Regions from separate parts of the Homo sapiens genome. Here all the other regions are linked to region 1. The links come from fine-mapping of genetic effects on gene expression. A gene starts in region 1. Each other region holds a variant in brackets. All regions are shown on one strand. Distances are from middle to middle. Region 1 holds the start of ECRG4 (ECRG4 augurin precursor). Region 2 overlaps NCK2 (NCK adaptor protein 2). Region 3 has its middle 44 kb from the start of ECRG4.

The links. PIP is the estimated chance that this variant, and not a neighbour inherited with it, causes the effect.
Region 2: its variant is the best candidate, but not a certain one, in a credible set for the expression of ECRG4 in whole blood (INTERVAL, PIP 0.65).
Region 3: its variant is the best candidate, but not a certain one, in a credible set for the expression of ECRG4 in transverse colon (GTEx, PIP 0.63).

The regions. Positions count from the first base shown.
Region 1 is chr2:106,062,090-106,068,441 of GRCh38, forward strand. It overlaps ECRG4 (ECRG4 augurin precursor), which reads left to right and starts at 3,599. Exons shown (of 4, transcript NM_032411.3): 1 at 3,599-3,754. The coding sequence starts at 3,676.
Region 2 is chr2:105,782,284-105,788,635 of GRCh38, forward strand. All of the region lies in intron 1 of NCK2 (NCK adaptor protein 2), which reads left to right. Among named protein-coding and RNA genes, the nearest start is that of NCK2, 41 kb to the left of the region's middle. RefSeq lists enhancers at 617-1,117, 4,403-4,974, 4,557-4,606. The variant C/G (reference allele first, on the strand shown) is at 3,920.
Region 3 is chr2:106,018,387-106,024,738 of GRCh38, forward strand. No RefSeq gene overlaps it. Among named protein-coding and RNA genes, the nearest start is that of ECRG4, 44 kb to the right of the region's middle. The variant G/A (reference allele first, on the strand shown) is at 3,878.

The sequences.
Region 1 (6,352 bases):
CTCCGTCTTAGACCCTGCCCCCTTTCCCCTGTGTGCATTCAGCTCACGGCACGCTCGCAGAGTGATGGCACTTCCTACAGTCCTCTATCTGCTATTGCCAGGTATCTGTGAATTGGAAGCCACAGAGGGAGGACCACTGAGGCCCCTGAGTCACGTGGAGGAAGGGAACACCATGTCTGGACTGTGTTTGAGAAGGTCAGTCTGACAATGTGTGACAATGGTATGTGGAGTGGATTGGAATCGTCTACAATGAGAGCTCCTGGCCAAAGGAAGGGAGGATCAGAGAGGTGTAAGAGCACTGGGTGGGGAGCTCAGAGGCCAGAGGGAGTTTGGTCTGAAAATAATTTCTAACATTTGTTGAGTGCTTACTGTACACCAGGCTCTGTGCATGTGATCTCTTACCCCAGTGTGATAGATAATATTGCCCCCATATTACCTCTGGCCTAGAGAGGACAGGTGATCTAATTACACAGTTTGTGCATAATGCAGAAGGAACTGGAACCCAAAGCCCACGTCCTTAGCTACTGTCACATGGCAGAAACGAAGGTCCTGGGGTTCATTTGGTATGGTATATCAAGGGAGAGAAACTGCATTATTAAACTGAGTGAGGCCAGGTAGAGACTTTAGGAAGCAGGTGCGTTTTGGTGGAGAGCTGAATGAGCTGAGTTACTCAAAGTGCAGTCTGAGGACTACAGCATCCTCTAGGAGCCAATAAAAACAAAATGGAGACAGCTGGGCCCCACCCAAGACCTACGTCATTCCAGGGGATTTGACTCAGAAATCTGCACTAACAAGCTCCTTGGGATTTTCAGACTAAGTTTGAGAAACACTGGAATGAAAAATCAGACCAGACTTAGCAGCGGGAGAAAGGAGGGTCTTGTACATTAAAGGGGTGAAAAATTTAAGCGACTAGTAAGAAAAGGACCTTTAATAGTGTCTCACATGTAGCTAGCATTTTATAAGTGCTACAGACTGAATTTTTGTGTCTCCCCTAAATTCATACATTAAATCCTAATTCCTGAAGTGAGGTGTTAGGAGGTGGGGCCTTTGGGAGATGATCAGGTACTGAGGATGGATCCCTCATGAGTGGGATTTGTGACCTCATAAAAGAGCCCCAGAGAGCTCCCTCACCCCTTCTACCGTATGAGGACACAGCAAGAAGGTGCCATCTAGGAAGCAGGAAGCAGGGCCTGACCAGACACCAAATCTGCTGGGGCCTTAGTCTTGAATTTCCAGCCTCCATAACTGTGCAAAATCCATTTCTGTTGCTTATAAGCTACCCAGCTTATGGGATTTTGTTTAGCAGCCCAAATGGACTAAGACAGTAAGTAAATACCGTTGAACAAATAGACAGATGAAAAGGAACTTAGATATCAGCATAAGAACTGACATAGTGTCTCCAGGCTGAACACATGAGTTTAGCGGCCCCTCTGAAGGCAGAGTGAGACGCTCCCTGCTACAGAACACTCTCTGGTCATATCCCGATTAAGTGAAGATAATTTATTTTTTTTTAGATAGTGTCTCGCTTTGTCACCCAGGCTGGAGTGCAGTGGCGCAATCTCGGCTCACTGCAACCTCCGCCTCCTGGATTCAAGTGATTCTCCTGCCTCAGCCTCCCAAGTAGCTGGAACTACAGGCACGCACCACCACGCCTGGCTAATTTTTGCATTTTTGTAGAGAGGGAGTTTCACCATGTTGGTCAGGCTGGTCTCAAACTCCTGACCTCAAGTGATCTGCCCTCCTCAGCCTCCCAAAGTGCTGGGATTACAGGCGTGAGCCACCATGATCCCCCTTAAGTGAAGAGAATTTGAATGTCATATTAGAAGTAGATATTGGTAGCAATTTGGGGTAAGGGGGATGATCTCCACAGGATAAATAAGATTACAGCCATTATGTTTAATGTATGTTCTAAACCAATCCAAACAGAATATTGGCTTTTTATGTGCTTTGATTTTTCTTTCTAATGATAAATTTCTTGTCCTCAGGCAAAAGTAAATATATGCCTGGTTACTTTTAAAACTCCTATCCCCTATTCTACAGTTTCCTCAAGGGTTTAGAAGCACTTCCCCAAGATAGCTAGATGTGTAACATTATCCTTCTGATTCTCTCTGACACCCTGGGCAGTATCATGATCTAACTCAGACCCACTTTGCACTTTTTTCTTTGGTTGGCCACCATCTGTCTTTACTAGCTCAATGTTAGAAGACTTCTTTCTCCTTCCTGCTGGAGAAATTCAACTGCATTGCATGGAGAGCTAATTATATGGAGAGACAGTAAGTGCTTACCACTGGAGGGTATAAAAATACTGGCCGGTGTGGTGGCTCACACCTGTAATCCTAACACTTTGGGAGGCCGATGCGGGTGAATCATTTGAGTTCAGGAGTTCAAGACCAGCCTGGCCAACATGGTAAAATCCCTTCTCTACTAAAAATACAAAATTAGCTGGGCCTCGTGGCACATGCCTTGTAATCCCAGCTACTCAGGAGGCTGAGGCAGGAGAATCGCTTGAACCCCGGAGTTGGAGGTTGCAGTGACTGAGATCCCATCACTGCACTCCAGCCTGGGCAACAAGAGTGAAACTCCGTCTCAGGGAGGGGAAAATAAGTGAGAACCTTGGTGAAGGAAAGAGGTAATCAGCTCAGTTCAGGGCAGATCTGAGATGGGAAGACAGGAAAGGTAATCTCACATCTCCATCCTTTTGTAGCCCAGGCCTGGAGAGAATAATTAGGTGACCCGCTCAGAGTCCGTTGGGATAAAGTTGTTCTAGTTTTTGTTCACTACGCCTCCTTTCACGTGTCCTCTACAGTTGAACAGGCCAGTTACTGGGATGCAGTTCTGCGTTTCCCTTGGGTCTCACCTTAACATCGCTCGCTGAAGTGTGCCCAGATTACAGAGCGGGCAAAGGGAAGCAGTGGTTTTGCTCACAGCTGCAGGGCACCAGGTTCCTGGTTTCTCAAAGGCTTTTCTATTGGAGAAGTTTGGGTGAGACGATTTCCCGGACTGCAGCTCTGAACCCAGACTGTGGAATCTTTCAAACTATCTCAAAAACAGCCCCGCCTAAGGCATCCTTAAGAGCAGCTCTGAACTAAGGAAATTCCAAAGCCCACTTTACAAACCAGGCAGAAGCAAGGCCCCCAAGCAGGGAGGGAGGGAGATAGGGAAGAAAGGGGTGAGGAGTAAGGGGAACAGTGGCGCGGCTGGGGCGGGCGGAGGAAGTGGGGGAGCCAAGGAGACACCCCAGCGCTGGGATCCGGCAAGTCCTCCCTCTGAGTGGCCAGGGGGCCTCGTCCCTTCTCCCGATGCCTTCTGCCCTTCCTTGGGTCTCCGGAACCCAGCTTGTCCTAACCGCTTTCGCTGCGGGCAGCGCTGGCCACGCGGCCCCCGCCGCCGGCGGTTCTCCGTGGCCAAGCATCCTTGGCCTTGGAGCCCAGGGGCTGCGTTCCCCTTGGGGCCGGGGCGGGAGAGAGGACCTCGGTGGTACTCGCCCGTGCGCTGGGCGCAGCCGCTTGGCCCTCAGCCCTCTGGCGCGGCGCCCACCCGCTGGGTCCCGCCCCGGCAGCGACGCAGGGATAACCCGCGGCCGCGCCTGCCCGCTCGCACCCCTCTCCCGCGCCCGGTTCTCCCTCGCAGCACCTCGAAGTGCGCCCCTCGCCCTCCTGCTCGCGCCCCGCCGCCATGGCTGCCTCCCCCGCGCGGCCTGCTGTCCTGGCCCTGACCGGGCTGGCGCTGCTCCTGCTCCTGTGCTGGGGCCCAGGTGAGCGGGGCGATGCCAGGCTGATTGATAGCGGCACCAGGGGTTGGCCCCATGTGGCGCTTCCATGGTGCCCGGGGAGAGCGATCGGTGATGGGGTGGCGGCGTAGGGACCCATCCTTAGCCTAGGCAGGGCCAAGGGGTGGTAGAGGACCGGGTCTGGGGTTTTGCACTCGCACAAGTGCGAAGTGGTGCCCTTGTGAGGGTGGAGAGAGTACCGGGGTCAAGGGGAGGGTCTCAGATCTCCCGGGCAACCTTGGGCAAGGAGGGCCAGGCGTCCGAAGGGTGGGCAAGTAGTGTTTCGTGGCTTAACGTAAGGGGCAAAAGGGTTGTGGGGGCTTTACGCAGCTGGTAACCCAGAGGAGGCAAATGGCACCATCACCGCCATTCCCTTCCAGGCAGTCGCTTAGCAACCAAGTTGACTTGCGCTTCCCAGCTGGGTCAAGTTGCAATTTGCAAAGCTGGGCACAGGCCTCACACCCCAGAGAGGGGAAAGGCTCTTAAAGGAGTAATGCTTAATCTTTCCTGCTTCGTGGAGCTCCCAGCGAATCGGTTGAAAACTCTGAAATTCTCTGCTCGCTCTCTGTAAAACGTGCATTCACACGCACACCCAGAATGATGGGTGCTCCGATATCTGATCGCTGGGCTCCACAGGCCCCACTTTAGGAACCATAATCTGAAGCCGTGGTTTGTCCTGAGTTACCACCTTCACTGGGTAGGAGGAACATTTATGGTTCACAAGTGGCCTCAAGGACACATGACTGCCTTTGAAGCTTACAACTAGGGGAGGCAGGGATTGTTACCTCAGAGTTACTGGTGTATGAAGTGACTTGCCCAAGAGCCTGAGACTGGCGCTGTCCCACTGCAAAGCAGCTGGGCACTGCCTAATGTAAAAGGGAGGCTCACTCGGTTGCTCAGTTTCTGTATTTTGCTCATTCGAAACAGGTATGGAAACTGAACTCGAGGTGAGAAGAGGCAGGGGACATTCAGTAGGAGCCCTGGGATGGAGCCCCGGGGTTGCTAAAACAGCAGGAGGCGTGGTGAGGTCTGTTCAGGTGGGGAGGATTATTGTTCCACCTTAGAATCACAGGCGAAGCTAATCAGTCATTTCCCGTTGTATGGTTTACCTGCCTCCCACTCTTTGTTCTTGCCACTTTAAGAAGCACATCTGGGCCGGCCTTGGTGGTTCATACCTGTAATCCCAGCACTTTGGGAGGCCGGGGGGGGGGGGGGGGCAGATCACCTGAGGTCGGGGGTTCGAGACCAGCCTGACCAACATGGAGAAACCCCGTCTCTACTAAAAATGCCAGACGTGATGGCACGTTCCTGTAATCCCAGCTACTCGGGAGGCTGAGGCAGGAGAATTGCTTGAATCTGGGAGGAGGAGATTGCGGCGAGCTGAGATCGTGCCATTGCACTCCAGCCTGGGTAACAAGAGTGAAACTCCGTCGCAAAATAAAAAAAGAAATAAATAAAAGAAGAAGAAGAAAAAAGCACATCTGAATAAGTCAAGTGAGCACTGGCTACAAGCCATTTATTTTCAGGACTTGTATTTTATTTAGTTTATACCAATAACTCAGTTAAAATATCATCACCGAGCTGGGATGTGAAAGTTCTTATACAGTGAAAATATTTTTTTTTTTTTTGAGATGGAGTTTTGCTCTTGTTGCCCAGGCTGGAGTGTAATGGCGTGACCTTGGCTCACTGCAACCTCCGCCTCCCAGGTTCAAGCGATTCTCCTACCTCAGCCTCCCGAGTAGCTGGAATTACAGGCATGTGTCACCACGCCCAGCTAAGGTTTTTGTTTTTGTTTTGTATTTTTAGTAGAGATGGGGTTTCTCCATGTTGGTCAGGCTGGTCTCAAACTGCCGACCTCAGGTGATCCACCAATCTTGGCCTCCCAAAGTGCTGGGATTACAAACATGAACCACCATGCCCAGCCTACAGTGAAAATCTTTATGTAATCCCAAAGGTGACTCTTTATGCCACCTCCAAACTTTTTTTTTTTTTTTGAGACAGGGTCTCACTTTGTTGCCTAGGCAGGAGTGCAGTGGTGTGATCATAGCTCACTGCAGCCTTGATCTCCCGGACTCAAGCAATCCTCCCACCTCAGCCTCCCGAGTAGCTGGGACTACAGGTGTGTTGACTCCACGCCTGGCAATTTTTTTTTTTTCTTTTAATTTTTAGTAGAGATGAGTCTCACTATGTAGCCCAGGCTGGTCTCGAACTCCTGGGCTCAAGTGATGCTTCTGCCTCGGCTTCCCAAAGTGCTAGGATTATAGGCTTGAACCACCACGCCCTTCCTCACTCACAAACATTTAATAAAGAAAATGACCGTGACCCCTTCTTGATCAATTTATTAATATTAAGCACCTTCAAAGGAGCATTTTGCAGCTCTGAATTTGCTGGGAGAGCTAATGCTAGGCAACTGGATTGGATAAATTAAGGAGTGCTTATTATTGCAGCCTTGAATGAACAACTGATGATATTGGGTGAAAAGTCCTTAATACAGAAAAAAATCACAGCTATTCTATTGTTCCTTATCCTTTTCCTCAAACAAATTTAGTGTAGTGTCCAGTTATATGTACTGATATGGAGTTC
Region 2 (6,352 bases), 280 kb before region 1:
TATCAGGCACATCCTGCTGATGGCTTCCACCAGCCCATGGGGATTAGTGATCTGCCTTCTCTCTCTGCCACCAAAAATCTCCCTAAAACTAGTTCCACTCTCTCCACAGCAGGTGTCAGAGTTGGGTTGATGGCCATTTGAGGACTTGAGAAGAAACAGTCTATATAATGAACGCTCTTTTCTTAAGTATTAAAGTTACTTTAAATTCTACACAAAATCTCACTTGAGGAATGCTGGCTATGTGAAGTGTCTTATGTTTTCATCCTCTCACTCTTGAACTCCATGCATAGGTAGTATGTGGTTTTAGTACTTTTTATTTTGTTAGAGCAGTTTTGTTTTCATGGCTAATTTAGCTCTCCTCATGCAACGTCAAATGATAGAACCTGATCGTTTCTGAGAGTGGGGGATCCGGCCCGTTGAAATCATTTGGCAAAATGGGCTGCAGCTGCCTGTAGAGGCGAAGTGGATGTCGGGGAGAAGAGGAGGTTGCAAAGGCTGTTAGGCTTGTGCTCAGCTCTGGCAGCCACAGCACCTGCCTCTCAGAGCTGGCTTCCAGTGACTAGTACTCACTTACTGTCCCCAACGCTCCCAACTGGAGAGGCGTAGGGGGCAGTTACTCCAGACACTTGTGCTCACCGGCTTGGCGAAGAGGGTGGCAGCCTCACCTTTATTTCCGGTGTCATAACAAGCCCCATTTGCAGCTGAGTTGGTCGACTATCATTTGCAACAGGTAAGCCTTAAGGCCAGAGCCTTTTTGGGTACCTGGGATATAACCGTGGAACAAGATAGATGGGGAAGCTGCCTTAGAATAAGAGTTGCAGAAGGCCAGAGCCCTGGGAGGTGGTTTAACTTTCTCTGCAGCACTGCTTTGCTTTCTGCCGCAGCAGCTGAGGAAGCCAATTTAACCTTGAATTTTCTTTAAGATGATATGTAATCTTTTGAAGATGGAAAGTAATGGCAGTGGAATGTTCTGCGTGCTGTTTGTAGCCTCGCTAGAGCTTGGGTGGGCCCCCATCGCCCTCCTCCTTTGGGGAGCCTCTAAGAGTCACTAGAGGAGACTTCCCTGAGCTTCCTTCCTCGGAGTGAGGCATTAAATTGTGCCCGTGTTCTGGGGTAGCACCGTGAAGGCCCGCGTGGAACATGGTTTTTATTTAGAGTAAAAACAGCTCGATGCAGCGTTGCCTGTCTGAGCCAGACTTAGCTCTTCATCTTCACCTGCTTGTGGGAAGCTTCGTACACCACCAAGGCACAGGTTAATGTGCAGTATTTGCCACCGTGGGTGCAGTTACTAGGAAGGCAGCCGTTCGCGGAGAATAATGGTGTGTTTTTTCCACCTTGTTCCTCTGAGCATCATGAAATACCTTAGCACGAAGAAACCCTGTAAATATTCTGGGTAATAGCCCTACATAAATGTATTCAGATTATGTTTTTTTTTCGCTAATAGGTGAAAAATGATGACCTCCACTCTTTCCAAGAGGGGTGGCCTGTTCCTGAGCGACTTCAGTGTGCTTCCCCACAGAGAGGGTTTTGCAGCTGGAAACAAGGGCATTTCTTCCCAGAAAGTGGGAGTTGTTTCGCTTCTCCCTTTATAGTACTGCCTTGTAGCAATCTGAAATGTGGATATATTTGGAATTTGCACGAGAAAATGAAACACCCTTTCTCTGCAGAAGACAGAGTGCCATTGCCTTTGCAGGTCACTGAGTAAGCAGCAGGACCTGCTTCAGCTGGACGGCAGGTCCCTTCTGTGGCACCTGGTTGGCCTCAACACCATGCGTGGCATTGGCAGTGATGAAATTCATTTTCATTCAGGAAAGCGTCACTGGGAGCTTTTCTTTTTTGAGAGAGGCTCTCCCTCTGTCACCCAGGCTGGCGTGCAGTGGCGTCATCTCTGTTCACTGCAGCCTCTACCTCTTGGGCTCAAGTAATCCGCCCGCCTCAGCCTCCCAAAATGCTGGGACTACAGGCATGAGACACCACGCCCGGCTGTTATTTCTAATAGGAAGTTGCCATCCCTTTTCTCACCCCAGTGGCATTTCTGGGGAGCAGTTTTCCCACCTGCTGATCGGACTCCTTGTGGTGGTCATATGGGCTTGGGGTGAATCGGGAGGGGAGAGTTTAATTTGCTTACATGTCAAGCTGTTTAAAACAGCCTTTCAGGCTAGTAAGTATTGATGCTGGTTATATTGAGGTGAAGGGGCATGTTAAATTCAAGATACATTTGTGTTTCCACTATGTGGAGCCTCGCTTGTGGAGGGTACAATGTAGAGATGTATTCAGGTCTTTACAATGTAGGTGAGCATAAATGCATTTTTATCATTTCTATAATAATCACATTTAAATTGAGCATGTCTGTGGTTAGGCAGGCAGTTACAAATGCTTGCCATAAAAGATTCTCATTTAGTCTAGTGAAAACTATAACACCATCAAACTTGCCCCTGGAGGAGCAGTGTGTCTGTTGAGGTCCATCCGTTCCTCAGCAGCCACTGTTCCAGGCCCGTGTTTCCCACACTTCCCATTTCAACATTCTTAGAATATGCACAAAGAGTGTGTCCTCAGATACTGACAGAATAGGATACACGAGTAAAGTTAGGAACACGTGCATGCACTTAGGCAGCCTCCCAGTTTGAAATGCTTTCTGAAGCAGGTAGTTGTTTTTTATGTGTTTTTTTGTGTGTTTTTTCGTTTTTGTTTTGTTTTTGTTTTTGTTTGTTTTGAGACGGAGTCTCGCTCTGTCGCCCAGGCTGGAGTGCAGTGGCGCGATCTCAGCTCACTGCAAGCTCCACCTCCTGGGTTCACGCCATTCTCCTGCCTCAGCCTCCTGAGCACATGGGACTACAGGCGCCGGCCACCACACCTGGCTAATTTTTTGTATTTTTAGTAGAGACAGGATTTCACTGTGTTAGCCAGGATGGTCTCCATCTCCTGACCTCATGATCCGCCCATCTCGGCCTCCCAAAGTGTTGGGATTACAGGCGTGAGCGGCAGTTGGTTCTTTACGGTGTCACTGGGAGCCGAGGTGGCCATGCTGTGTGTGTCCAAGTGTAAAAAGAACCAGAGGACGGTTCCCCCGTCCTGGCCAAGGAGGCTAGTGGGAAGCTTCCTGAGATGTCTGTGGACACAGGAAAAAATTGTTGTGTTGTCCTACAGGGAGACATGTGAGTGTAATTCCTGCTATTCAGAAAGATAGAGTCCAAAGTGACACGACCAAAAGACCGCCAATACAAAATCTAATGCAGCCTGCCCAGTCCTCCTTGTAACCTGGTCCCACTGACAGGTTTCCCGCTGTGAACAGTAAAGGGAAAGGCCCAATCTCCAATAGCACCAATAGAGTGGAAGCCACAGGATTGGCTCTGAGCCACCTCAACATCCGCTCAGGTGTTTGCAGGTATGCCCAGCCAGGGAGTCTGGGGCAGCCCTGCCGAGGTTAAGTTTGCCTTTGTGCTTTATAAGCCGAAGCTTGGGAGAACCTGATCACACCCAAAATGTCATTCTGAGGGTCAGCAGGAGGTTGGGCGCAGGACTCCTAGTAAGTGCTGAGTCTATTTATTTAGCTGTTCTCATTTGATGTGCTGAAGAAAATAAATACGATATCTAGTAGCAGTGCAATACTTTTGGTCTAGATGATGGTCCAGGGAGGCCCAAATTATTTAACTTGGGCGACTGGTTCCCTGGACTTAATACCTTTTGCCTGTTTTTTGTGTTTTCGTAAACGTGTGTGTGTCCACTCTTTGCCCATCTGTCAATTTTCTCATTTACCTTCTGCCTTATTTGCCTTATTCTCACGTCCCTTCCACTGCACATCTCTCTATCAGTTAATTAATCCATTCATCCAGCCAGCCTTTTATTGATCATCTGTTGTGTCTAGGGCAGCATGATTAGCGTTGTGGACTGAACAATAAATTACAAACAATCCCAGCAC[C/G]AGGGATGAAAAAATTATGTGTACAAATGACTCTGATAACAAATGATTATTTTGAATCTATGTAATAACCGTAGTGATCATTAGCTGAGCATGTGCTATGTGCCAGGCCTGGCTCTGAGCACGGACTTGTTCCATTAGCCCTGGGAACGGCCAGTGGGCAGGCTGGGGACAGGATGGGAGTTCGGGAAGGCTGGGAGTGTTGTCTTGGGCCTGTCTGGAAAGGTCTCTGCCTTTGGAGACCTGGCTGCCAGCCTTGGAGGTGGCCCTGGCCGCTGCTGGGATCTTGTGTCTGCTCCTCTCTAAGCATGAGATGCTGAGTCGGTTCCTTTAGCTCAGACTCATCCACACCTTTAGGAAAAGGAGGTAATGCCGGCCTCGCGCGGTTATGAGAGTGAAATTAAACTCCACATAGCTGGCTCAGGGTGAGGCCTGATAAGCACTGTGTCCCTGTGGTGGCTGTGGCCTGGCCTGACTCTCCTGGGTCCCCGGGCAGGGCTTCCTGTCTCCATCGCTGTCTCTTATTTCTCTGCCTCCTTCAGGTCCAGCTTCTACTCTCTCCTCCCTTCTGCCTCCCCCACGCATTGCTTCCTCCTGGGTTTGTTCCCCTCTGCCTCTCTTGGGCCAGTGCCTTCTACCAGCCCTGCTCCCACCCTAGCCTTAGGCTGACTCCCTTACCTCTGCTGCTCAGGCACCCTCCTTTCTAAAGCATGGTGATAACAGCACCGTCCAGACTCGAAGCAGGGGACCTGCGAAACTTCAGCTGGCGTGGTGCCGCACAGGTGCTCCCTGGCCTTGGTGGCTCTCAATGGGGTGAGCATGTGCCCTGCTTTCCTCTCTTCTGCCCTTTGCTGCGACTCCTCTGCTGTCTTGCTCTGCCCGCTGCAGGCGTGGTGGCACTGGGCAGCTGCTGTTACTCCCACTGCCCTCACCTTTGACCCTCAGCCCTGAGCACTCAGCTGGATTTCTCTTTTCTGGGTTGGTTGTCCTCACACTGAAGGAAGCTCAGCTCAGCGCCGTGGAAGGGGCAGGACCCAGTCTCAGCTCTGACATGGTCATATCTGTAGGCTTGGGCTGAGTCTTCCACCTGCAAGTGCAATGGACTGAAATTTTATGTCCCCCAGAAATTCAGGTGGTGAAGTTCTAACCCCCAGTGTGACTATATTTGGAGATGAGCCCTCTGAGGAAATAGGGTTGAGAGTAGGGCCCCCATAATGGGATTCCTGCCCTTCTGAAAAGAGACAGCAGAGAGCTCTCTCTGCCACCTGAGGACATAGCGAGAAGGCAGCCATCGGCAAGCCAGAAAGTGGCCCCCATCAGACTCTGCTGGCACTTGGATCCTGGACTTGCAGCCTCCAGAGCTGCGAGAAATGAATACCTGCTGTTGAAGCCCCCAGCCTGTGGTCTTTTGTTAGGGCTGCCTGAGCTGACTCAGGCAGTGAAGCTACCTCAGTCTCTCCCTGCGGTGGAGACTCCACCCCATGGGGTGTCAGGGTGCACTGGTGACCACTGCACCTTCCCCATAGGAGCATCTCCACTAGCCAGGTTCCTTCTTGCTGGAAACAAGGCCCATCTTTTCTTGATGACAGTGAGGGAATGGGTAGATGGGAAAATTACGGCCATAACTTGTTTTGCTTTAATTTTGGGCTACATCCATGTTATAAGATGATCTCATTCTGTTAGAAACACATGCGTATACCGCCCCCCACCGCCCCCGACTTGTAGATCCCTGGCCCATTGGCAGAAGTGAGTAGACCTGGGCTTCCTGCCCTCCTGGGCTCCACGTGCCACCAGCCAAGGACAAATCAGAGTTGGGATGTGTCTCCTTCCAAGGTTGGATCTGCTTGGATCCATTTTGGATGCAAAAGTGAGGGTGCTAGCTTTGAAAAAGCTTCTCAATTTGACTTTCCTTTCACTTCCGTAAAGTGTAGGGGATTAGAAGTGAGAGTTGGGGAGGAAGGAGGCCAATTCTAGATAAGTTTTTTCATCAGCTATGTGAATTGGAGACAAAAGTTAGAAAACCTAGGTACTAGTGCTGTCTTTTGCTTAAAGGATTTTTGTGCCCTTGAAACTTCTACACCCATAAAATGCATTTTCATGGAGTTAAAGCCATTGCTTAAAAGTAGGTTAAAAGGAGAGGGAAATTCTTTTCTCCATTTCTATCAACGCCATTTAGATGATGATGTTTCAGTCTTTTTTCCATGCTTAGGTTTCCTTTTTCCTCTGGTTTGTATATTTATAGTCATACTCTATCCAAATGAACTTTTCTCATTAATAGGGATTCTGAAACTACTGTTATCTCCATCTCCTCTTGAACAAGTAATACAAGCAATATATATTTTTGATATTTAACATATCTATAGTTGTACTATATTAATACAATTATTATACTGTATATTACTTATATGTAGGTTAAATAAGACACTTCTGTTGGCC
Region 3 (6,352 bases), 44 kb before region 1:
GGAGCCCACTTCCTGTGTCCCTGGAGTCACCACGTCCTTCCTCCCACCGTCTGGCTCTGGCGCTCCTCCTGTCTGTGTCTCACTCCCTTTGAAGTTAACTTATCTTCCATAACCTGGGAAAGGGGAGATCTTTTGACCTATGACTCAAAATCTAGAAGCAATATAGAAAAATATTTATATATTTGATAATATACAATTTTTAAAAGAGAAAATCTGTATGACAAGAAACACCTCAAGCAAAGAAAAAAGACAAATGGCAAACTGGCAGTAAATATCAGCAACTCACACCTGAAAGGATCAATAGCTCTAATAAAGAAAAAACTTCTGAAAATAGAGAAGACCAACAATCCTATAGAAAAGTGGGGGGCCAGAGAGGAGAAATGCAAATAAAAACTATCCTGAGTTACCAAGTCTTACTATCAGATTAATCAAATCACAAAGTTGAGTAGTACACAGTGAGGGTGGGCTTGGAGAAACAGGAGTTTGTGAAAGTGAAATGAGGTTTTGACAGTGGCTAATAAAATTCTCTATGCATTCCCCTTTTGTTTTTGCAATGTTCTTTCCAGGAACCTATTTAAATATTGACAAGACGCTGGACACAGTGGCTCACGCCTGTAATCCCAGCACTTTGGGAGACTGAGGTGGACGGATCATGAGGTCAGGAGATCGAGGCCATCCTGGCTAACATGGTGAAACCCTGTCTCTACTAAAAATACAAAAAATTAGCTGGGCATGGTGGCGGGCGCCTGTAGTCCCAGCTACTCAGGAGGCTGAGGCAGAAGAATGGCGTGAATCCGGGAGGCGGAGCTTGCAGTGAGCCGAGATCATGCCACTGCACTCCAGCCCGGGTGACAAAGCAAGACTCTGTCTCAAAAAAAAAAAAAAAAAAAAAATTGGCAAGACACCCCAAAAGACATATGCCAAGGAGTATTCACAGCAACATTATTTGTGATGGCCCCAAATGTCCACCAATCGGAGACTGGTGGAGTTCTGTGCAGCTTTCAAAACAAAGTAGGAAGATCTCTAGATCCTACTATGCTGGGTTCTCCAGGATATACTGTCAATTGAAAGAAGCAAGTAGAGAAAAGTAAATACAGGCCGGGTGCAGTGGCTCATGCCTGTAATCCCAGCATTTTGGGAGGCCGAGGCAGGTGGATCCCTTGAGGTCAGGCATTCAAGACCAGCCTGGCCAACATGGCAAAACCCTGTCTCTACTAAAAATACAAAAATTAGACAAGCGTAGTGACACATGCCTGTAATTCCAGCTACTCCAGAGGCTGAGGCAGGAAAATAGCTTAAGCCTGGGGGCAGAAGGTACAGTGAGCTGAGATTGCACCACTACACCCCTCTATCCTGGGCAAAAAAGAATGAATGAGACTCTATCTCAAAAAAAGAAAAAAGAAAATATAGAAAAGTAAATATAATACGCTGCCATTTGTCTAAGAAAGAGGGGATATGAATATATATATATATATAAATAAAACAGAAGGATTGATTATATAATGAATAGCATCCTTATCTTTAAAAGGAAGGAGAAGGTGGAGAGAGCAAGGGTGAAGCTAGATTTCTCTCAATCTACCTTCTACTTCCATGTGATAGAAGGTATGTGAATAAAAAAATTAAAGAAGTAAAAATTCTATAATCCTAGTTTTGTTTTTTTCTAAAAATATAAAGAAACTTATTTCCCACATCCTTTTAAAACCCAATGTTAATGGGTACCTAGTAATTCATTACAAAGATGTCCCATGTGTTACTTAACAAACCTAACTGTGTTTTGGAAGTATCTCAGCTTAACAGCAAAACATTCCGTGGGGAGTCAGAAATCCCAGGCTCTGAGCCAGCTTCCATTATGCAGAACCATAAGATATTACTGCTGTTGGATTCTTTTTGCCCTGCCGAAACAGCAATGCGTAAACTCCAACCTTGTGGCTATTACTCCTGGGACCCTGGGCCAGTGACTTCTGTCGCCTCTCCTGAAAACTCTAGAGGAGTCCTGCCAGGCTCAGGGATGGTTGTGAGGGTCAAAAGAAATGCTGGGCAGCAGGTTTTAGGTGACATATTGTTAGAATCGAGAGGAGGCGGGTCTGCCTGGTGCAATGAGAAGGTATGAGTGTGAATCCTTTGATAACTCCTTGCAGAACAATTCTGAAAATAAGGCATAGGTTCATTCCCAAACTGCACCAGGGCTGCAAGCACATTCTAAATTATACCAGTTATAAAGACAGAACTCTTGCAGTGCTAATGCAATTAAAGGGCATTTGCATGGAATGAGATTTTAGGTTTTTTGTTTTTTTGTTTTTTGTTTTTTTGCAGCACTGTTTAAAGAGGGTCCTTTGAGTTGTATTCTTAATTTGTGTAGTTTTTTTCCCTTTAAGATGATCTGTGCACTTCTCACATTTGAGATGCACTGGCTGGAAAATATTGCAGCAGCCCAGGCAGGGCTTGATTTCAGCCGACGTTTCTCAGGGCCTCCACACTAGGCATGCCTGGGAAATTGCCTTTTGGGACCTCTGCCAGGCCCCCTGGGAAATGGGAGCAGCCATCCTCCAGTGTAGATTTAGTTGTTCAGTGACCCAGGGTGTCCAAAATAAGCAGAGAGAAAGAGCCCTCACTTCTCTTCCAAGCAAGGCAGTGTCGTTTGCACTTGGCTCTGTAATTAGGAGCTACTGGTGAGATGCTTTTTGGAAGTGAGCGAGCCCTTTCAATTTGGCCATTTGTGGTCCTGAATTACAGCTGACTGGAAATTAAAGCTGTAAGCGCAGCCTCAAACCACAGGGAATGGGGCTGAGGGCCTCCCAGCCACCTGGCACAGCTCTGGAATGCTTACAGCACTTGATAACGCTTGCTAGGGGCAAGACAAGGGCAATAAAATGTGAATTAGATGGAGATGAACATGCCATCCGGGGCAGGAAGAAATCCTCAAGCAGATGTGTGTGGAAATTAATGGTACGGTGATAACAAATGTTGAAGCACTGCACAGTGACCATACTGGGGAATCGGCCCCCTGACAACTGTTTGTTTTACAAAGGGCGGGGCCTCCTGTGGATGGAAGGAAAACGTAAGAGGTAATAGCTTTTGAATTTGGTGCAGTTGATGCATATTAAGGAGATCTTCCAGTCTGTTTCAGGAATGCATTTCAATCTGTGCTGCCAAAATCTTTGTTGGCCAGGGTCAATATTCAACTTATTAAAAGAAAAGTCTCATTCTCTTTCCCCTTTTTTCCATTTGCTCCTTCTCCAGATAAAGAACGAGGGTAACTAATGCAGAGAAAAAATAACCACCCTCAACCAGGAGGCCACGCTGCAGAAGGATCCATCTCTCTGAGTTGTCTCTTTACCCTAGGCTGGGTCTGGATGTTCAGAGCAGAGTTTTAGCAGGCATGCTTTGGAGCTCAAGAACAGGGGTCCCCAACCCCCAGGCTACAGACTGGTACCAATCTGTGGCCTGTTAGGAACCGGGCTGCACAGCAAGAGGTGAGTGGCAGGTGAGTGAGTGAGCATTACTGCCTGAGCCATGCCTCCTGTCAGATCAGCCTGGCATTAGTTCTCGAAGGAGCATGAACCCTATTGTGAACTGTACATATGAGGGATTTAGGTTGCATGCTCCTTATGAGAATCTGTACCTGATGATCTGAAGTGGAACAGTTTCATCCCAAAACCACCCTTCCCCACCCCTATACTCCCCCTAATCCCTGTCCGTGGAAAAATTATCTTCCATGAAACTGGTCTCTGGTGCCAAAAAGGATGAGGAACGCTGCTCAAGAACATAAAAGAAGTACAGACCCTAATCCTGGATGCTCGGGTAGGCTGGTGATTGGCTTTTCAAAAGCTTTATTTCTATTAAAGGAGAGAAAATAAAATGAGAAAGATACCACTTC[G/A]ATGGCTGTAACAAAATTCTAATATTTAAAAGTGATACCAAAATATAGATTGTGTAAAGTAGGGAGCAGATTTCATGGTGGGAAATACAGGGCAGTGAAGTAGAAATAATTGCTGGGTTTGACATTTGAAGACCTAGGTTTGGTTCCTAGCTGGGCCACATTTTAGCGGTCACTATGGTCTTTGAGTACTTCCAGGCTCATCTTATATTTTTCCTGCTCAACACCCAAATTAGCTATTTACCAAGGAATCCTGGTTGCTTTTGATAGAGAGTGATACTTAGATCCGGGTGAAAGAAACCAAGATCTGGGGCCTACATATGCTCATTGCTATGAGGGCCTCAGTGTGTCTCCCTTTCAGTGGAGAGAACTAAGGAATGTATCTTTGGAATCATGGATTTATACTGATATCTTCAATTCAAAGACAATTCAACACAAATACATTGCCGAGTTCTTCCTCAATATCCTCCACACCATATTTGTATCTCTCTTCTTCCTTACTCATTGCTTTATTCTAGGACATAACTCAAAATATTCCAGAATCACAGTATCGATACCAGTACTGACAACAAAACTCCTAAGATCAAGATTTCTTTGCAGGTCTTTTTACCCTTAGAATAAGTCCAACTAAATGTGTATGCTTGGAGCTCAGCTTTTAAGTTACTTAATTCTTTTTTTCTATGTACTTATGTAACCAGTTTGGTAGATAGTATATCATTGTGTTGTGTTTATCCAAGTTTAGAGTGCTTCTAAAAAACTCTTTGATTTAATTTTATTTTTGAATATGTAAAACACATAATTCAAAAGTCAAAACTGGCCAGGCACAGTGGCTCACGCCTGTAATCTCAGCATTTCAGGAGGCCATGGCAGGAAGATTGCTTGAGCTCAGGGGTTTGAGACCAGCCCTGGCAACATGGCACAACCCCATCTCTACAAAAAATACAAAAATTAGCCTGGCATGGTGGTGCATACCTGTAGTCCCAGCTACTCAGGAGGCTGAGGTGTGACGAATGGATTGCTTGAGCCCAGGAGACTGAGGCTGCAGTGAGCTGTGAGTGTACCACTGCACTCCAGCCTGGGAGACAGAGCAAGAACTTGTCTCAAAAGAAAAAACAAAGTCAAAACTACATAAAAAGTGATAGTCATTCCTGTCCTTTACCTCTTACACTCTGAGCCTATCTCACCCCCCAAATTTCACTGGTTTATGATTTAATCTTCCTGCCATCACGGCTAGGCTAGAATCACGGTGTTGGCAGTGCTATCTTCCTTCCAGGTGATGATCCGTTTCCTCGCCTTTTCCAGCTTCTAGAGGCCACCTGCATTCCTTGGCTGTGGCCCCTTCCTCCACCTTCAGAGCCAGCAAAGTCAGGCTGAGTCCTCTTCATGCTGCATTTCGCTGGCTCCCTCTCTTCTGCCTCCCTTTTCCACTTATAAAGACCCTTGCAACCACATTGGGCCCACCTGCCCAAGACAGTCAGCTGATTAGCTGTCTTAATTCCATCTGCAACTTTGATAGCCCTTTGGCATGTAACCTAATATATTCACAGGTTCTAGAGATTAGGATGTGGACATCTTTGGGGCCATTATTCTGCCTGCCGTGGATTTCTGCTATCACATTGGCTAACTACTATTGGTTTGTTTCTTGCAACCACATCAGAGGAGCCAGGAAACCTCCCAGAGGAAGTTTGAGTGTTTTCCCTACACCTGGGAACTGGTGTCAGGAAGGTTTTTGCTCACTCTTAATATCTCTGATGAAGCCTGAAATCCTGCAGGACTTAGCAATTGGTCTTGGAAGAAAAATGGCACCATTGTCAGGGCTGGAAGATGCTTTGTGCCTGAGCCAGCATCTGAGCAGCTGCAAGCATCCTTGTTGCACTCTCTTCCCCTTGAGGAATGAGGACAACGCAGCACCCACAGGTGTCCTCATCCGAAGCTGGGCTATTCTTTTACCCAGCTCAGCTCACTCAAGTTGCAAATCTGTGAATGCAAACTTGGAACGGAATGCCCTAAAACCAGCTTCAGCTAGCCCAAAGTTGGGGAGTAGAAGCGGGGAGGGGGGAGAATTATGACTTAAATTATGATTTTAAATGAACATGAGGTTGCTCTTTCCTTTCCAAAATTTGAAACCTGCCTTGCATTCCTGGCTACAATAAATAAGACTTTTGACATTTTTCTACAAGGTAAAAGGTAGACGTAAGAAGTGTGTGAGGAGATGTGTTCTCCCTCCTGCCCTCCGCCTACACTAGCAGCTCAAGGAGTTCCCTGGTTTCGATTGCCTCATTCCCCACCCTGGGCTGTTCTGTCCCTCAGGCAGGGCCTTGGGGCCTGTGAAATCAGGGGCCCCAGGAGAATCTAACAGGTGGCTTGGCTGAGGGTGTGGAGTCAAGAGGGACCTATGGTGAAGGTTGGCTCATGGAACCCTAATTTAGCTCATAAGGGTCCTTCACTAAGCTCTTCTGACCTGACACTCTATTTCTA